2 separate regions of the Homo sapiens genome follow, and region 1 is linked to region 2. Evidence: fine-mapped expression QTL. Tissue or cell type: testis. Region 2 holds a variant in brackets; the other region holds the start of a gene. All regions are shown on one strand. Distances are between the middles of the regions.

Region 1 (2,681 bases), 220 kb before region 2:
TCCCCCGAACCAGAGGCCACCGCCATCCCCCGTGGGTTGCCGCCTGGCACTGCTGACGCAGCAGAGGCAGAGGTGTGTTTACTTTCCCTCAGTGGAGGTGACGGGGAGCTGCCACTCTATCAGGGGTTCCACAGGCCCCTGCCATGGTAAGGGGCCTCCATCGATTAGGGAGGCCTTGGGGTAGCCCCCAGAAGGCTCCCCACATACTGCTCCAGGCCTCCTTTTCCTAGCCTTGCGACTGAGCCCAGCTCAAGAGGACTCAGCCATGCTCTCTAACCTCCTAAGGTCTGAGGTCACTGCACAGCCCCAAATGAGTGGGTCCTGGGCAAATAGTTTAGGCAGGTGGAGACCTGACGCTGGGCCTCAACCCCCGCAGCCGAGGGTCCCAGAGGAGGGCAAAGGTTGCTCCTCCTAGAACAGCACAGTGCAGCGCCCAGAGAGCTGTGAGGGAAGCTGGCATTCGAACCCCACTGCCCCCTGGGAAGCCTGGCTAACCGAAGCGCAGGCTTTGGTTTCCATAAATACCCGGGCCCGTGATGTCACCGCCCCGTGCAGACTTTCACAGCCTCTGCTGCTGGCGTGAGGCCCAGCACACAGCCGCTCTGCTGCCAGCCCACAGAACACCTGGGCACACAGCTGGACACTGATGCCTCCGTGCTAGGGACGGTGGGCTGGACCTTCACCTGCCCTTGGAGGACGCAGCATCCTGGCCACTGCCTCAGCCTGCCTGCGACCTTCTATCAGGCATGGCTGAAGGGCTGGCCATGGGCGTGCTGGGCAGAGATTCTCTTCCTAAACAGGCTATGGGCTAAACCAAAGCCAAAACAGTAGGAGCCGGTCTGGGCACCCTGAATGTGGATCTGGGAGGGGGGATACCTGCTCTCACAGTTGGGAATTTCACAGCCTGCTGAAGACCTGCTGACTAATAGCCTTTTTCTCATCGTCATCACCAACAAACACCTCCGCTGCAGGGGCCGAGCGCCGGCATCCCTGCTGGGTGGCCAGCTCCCTCTGCAAGTCACCTGCACATCCACCTGCCCCTCCCCCAACGATGCCCCTCACTCCAGCTCCCAGCTCAGCCGGGCCCCTCTGGCCTCTGGCTTCAGGCAGAAACCTGCCACATATACTCACAAATAGCGTCTTCTGCAAGCCATCCTGTGTGAATCCGTTCTTCCCTGTTCTGGCTCCCTCTCCAGCGGGGAGGCTCAACGTGTTTCCAAGAGGAGCAGGCGGCTCAGGCAAGAAGTGGAGGGGAATAAAATTAAATCGCGGGGCGAGTCACATTCCCGGGGGTGGCGGGCTCCTCCAGGGAGGCTGGGGCGGGAGCGGGGGGCGGCGCCAGCAGCGGGCTGTGGAGGGCCCTGGCACGTAGCGCGCGCTCACACCGTGCCCAGGAGCGAGCGAGGACGTCGAGTAACCGTGGTCGCCAGGCTGGGCGGGGGCGTCCACCTCGCTGCTACCTGGGCCCACCTTGGGGTTTTTCCCTCCCGTCCATCCGGGGTGCGGGGCGCGGGGATGAGGAGGGGAGGGTCGAGAGAAGGCTGCCCCGGGTTTGCTCTCGCAGCATCCGGAGAAGGGGCGGGCGCGCCGGAGCCTCCCCCACCCCCCGCGCCCAAGGAGCAACGTAGTGCGGCCGCGCCGGACCAATCGCCGAGGCGCTGGTCGCCATGGCAACAGCAGCATCAGGCGCGGCCGCTCGGCTGCGCCCTCGCGGCAAAGTCACACACCCGGCGGGGCGCGGGGCGCCGGCCCCTTCCTGGCCCGCGCTGGAAACCTGGAAGTCTGTTGCTAAAATGCACGCGCCGCGCGGAGCCTACGATGACACTACTTTCCAAGGCGGCTTTTCTGCCTTCGGCACTGAGACACGCGAGCCGCGGAGCTCTCGGGGCTCTGGCCCTGGAGTGAGGCCGGCCGACTCCAAGGCTGTCTCTGCCACTGAAGGGCGATGAGACCTTGGCAAGCCGCGTCTCTCCTGGGAGTCTTGATTATGCTACTGTGAAAGGGATCATAACAGCTATACCACGGGGTTCCAGGAGGGCGCACCACGCCAGTAGCTGCACGGTGGATGGCAGAGCAGTCCTCGTTTGTGCCAGTCCTGTCCCAAAGGGGGCTGCACGTGGCTAGGGAGAATTTCTGGTCTAGCTATGGTGCCTCTTCCTCTCCCGAGGACCTTCCATGTGCCGGGCAAGTATCTGCCCTCATGATGTTTACAGTCTAAGGGGAAGCCAGGAAGTAAGTGTGCAGATATAGGATTGCACGTGGTGATAAGGATCAGGATGAAAAGAGAGCAGGAAGAGGGGAGGCAGGGACCCCAAGAGAGGCGGGAAGGAGGCTTCTGCCATCAGACGGGGTGGTCGGGAAGGCCCTCTGTGAGGCACGTGTGGCTGAGACTCGGATGACGCAAGAAGCAGGGGAGGAGCTGGCGTCAAGGCTCTGAGGCGGAAGGCAGCCTGGTGTATTTGACTGGCCCAGAGGAGGCCAGCGTGGTGCAGTGTGCGACAGGGAGGTGGAGGGGAGAAGCGCACATCCATCCTCGGCTCCCACACCCGCCTTTCCCACACAGATTTCTCTCTTCCTGTCTGATGTTCATCTGATCCTCTCTGCTTCCTCATCTGTAAACCAGGAATCCCAGACCTATCTCAGAGGCATGTAGATAATATTCTTCCGTGCACGGTAATCCT
Region 2 (2,681 bases):
GAGTGGGGGCTGGAGGCTTTCTGAGGCACAGACCCAGCTCAGTGACTCTTCTGCCCTGCTCTGTTGGCCAAAGCAAGTCGAGAGTCTAGCCAGGCACACGACAGGGGCTCCGTAGGTGACACTGTCACCTCCTGCAGCTGTCCCCCACCCCCTAGCCTGGCTTGAAGCCAGGAAGATGGAGGGAGGGGGGAAGGGGTGCACCCTCAGGATACCCAGCCTGCTTAGCTCCTTGGAGGCGGCAGCAGGAACCCACCTCCCTGCTGTGGCTGTCCCACCTGGCCACCATCAGATGCCCTCTGCTATTGATCAAGTTGGGTGCTTATGTGGTCATGTTTACCAACCCCTGGAGGGCACTGGGCCATGGAACCCTTACCCTATATTGACTGAAGAAAAGATCAAGCTTTTAGAAAATCAAAGTCAATTTTTTTTTTTTGAGACGAAGTCTCACTCTTCTTGCCCAGGCTGGAGTGCAATGTCGTGATCTCGGCTCAATGCAACCTCTGCCTCCCGGGTTCAAGCGATTCTCCTGCCTCAGCCTCCTGAGTAGCTGGGACTACAGGCATACGCCACCACACCTGGCTAATTTTGCATTTTTAGCAGAGACGGAGTTTCTCCATGTTGGTCAGGCTGGTCTGGAACTCCTGACCTCCGGTGATCAGCCGGCCTAGGCCTCCCAAAGTGCTAGGATTACAGGCGTGAGCCACCGCGCCCGGCCGAAAGTCAGTTTTATGTAGAAGCTTGACTGAGGACTATAGACTGAGGCCTGTAGCCAGGAGCAGCCCTTTAGAGAGGCTCTATCAGGCCGTTCCTGCACAGCATTTCAGCCCATGGCTTATATACAGGTGGTGGAGGATTAATGTGTGCAAATCCACATTAAACTTGTTCAGAAGTTACATTACAGCAGAGTCACACCTAGGTTTGGGTGTGGAAGTGCATGTGCTTAGCAGAAGCACTAAACCCAGCAGACATTATCTTAATGTGTGGGAAAAGGCAAGGACTGGGGTTATTTCACTTCTAAAAAATAGTGACTCCGGTCAGAGATGTGGGAGCCTTGTGATCTAGCCTGCTTTGCCTTCAAAACATCTTTCTGGAGAGCTACACTTTATGCTGACAAGCCAAAATGAGCAAACATGGCTTCTTAGGTTTGTTACTTTGTCTCACAAGTTCCCTCTTTTGCTCATAATCAACTATTAGTTGCATTTACAAGACAAACACTGATTGTCTTATGTAGCCAGGAAGACTCTTGCGTAGGAAGGCAGGGAAGCTTCAGTGGTAGTTGTATC[G/C]GGCTCAGCATGCATACTTGGCTATTTTGCAAAAAACACACTTCAGATTGCATCTACTTTTAACTAGCATGATCTGGGGTTTTTTTGTTGTTGTTGTTCTTTGTGACATTGCCTTTTCCTGTACCTAACACAATACCTCAGCAGGAGGACTATTACAAGGATATTACAGATTATAGGTAGCAATACATATTTAATAGCATTAAAGTGAGTTACAGATTGTAAAACCCACGATAACCATTTAACAAAACTGGAACATACATTTGAATAGTTTTTTTTTAATCGATTGTAATATTTTTCCCCTTTTGGTACCCATATTTAGTATAGTCTTTTTATGAAAAACAATTTTGGACTAGAGCTGATTGCAAGTGTTTTTGTTTTTGTTTTTGAGACAGGATCTCACTCTGCCACCCAGGCTGGAGTACAGTGGCATCATCATCACGGCTCACTGCAGGCTCAACCTCCAGGGCTCAAGCGATCCTCCCACCTGAGCCCCCTGAGTAGCTAAGACTACAGGCTCACATCATCACACCTGGATAATTTTTTAATTTTTTTTAGACACCAGGTCTCACTATGTTGTCCAGGCTGGTCTTGAATTCCTGAACTCAAGCAATCCTCCCACCTCAGCCTCCCAAAGTGTTGGGATTATAGGCGTGAGACACTGCACTCACCCTGCAAATGTTTTTACAGAATAATTTATAACAATAACTGTGGATAATAAAACTTAGAATAGCCTTGGTTAAAATCTGATGAAAGTTTTTAATTGACAGGGAAATTTAGTTATTTCTATTTCACACAGCATTTTATGATAACAACCAGAATTATGACTGATGGTGTCACATCAGGGCCATTAGATGTTTATAAATTTTATATAATCTTTGGAACACTTATATTAACAACATATCCACACACATATAACTTACAAACAATTTAATATAACAATCAAAATTATTACTGATAACATTAGATTTTTATGAATTTATATTATTTTTGGAACATTTATATCAATAACATACCCATAAATGTAACTGAAAAAAGATCTAGTATCATTTATCATTTGACAATGCCTCCCATACAATTTACCAAACAATTTAAATCATTTAATATCTGCACAGGATGAGAGATATATTTTGCGGGAGTTTCCAGGGACACACTGGAAAATCCCATTTTTGGCCATTTTAATGTGAAATCTCCTTTGGTAAAGTCCTCCCATCCAAGGAGACACTTGCCAGTGTAAGCTCCATGTGTGTTATACACAAAGCCTGCTGGAGTGCTGACTGGAGGTTGGTTGTTCAATGACCCTGTTGTTTCAGTTTTGGATGATTTATTTTCCATTGTGAGAGCTCAGCAAAGCAGGACTGCTATTGAGAAACGTAGTGGGGAGATGAGCAGCTTTGGCTG

What was found. PIP is the estimated chance that this variant, and not a neighbour inherited with it, causes the effect.
Region 1: it holds the start of IQSEC1, and the variant in region 2 is fine-mapped to the expression of IQSEC1 in testis (GTEx, PIP above 0.99).

Annotation. Positions count from the first base shown.
Region 1 is chr3:13,071,861-13,074,541 of GRCh38, forward strand. IQSEC1 (IQ motif and Sec7 domain ArfGEF 1) reads right to left here and starts at 1,569. Exons shown (of 14, transcript NM_001134382.3): 1 at 1,132-1,569. The coding sequence starts at 1,154. RefSeq lists silencers at 1,485-1,644, 1,765-1,944.
Region 2 is chr3:13,289,999-13,292,679 of GRCh38, forward strand. No RefSeq gene overlaps it. Among named protein-coding and RNA genes, the nearest start is that of NUP210, 130 kb to the right of the region's middle. The variant G/C (reference allele first, on the strand shown) is at 1,284.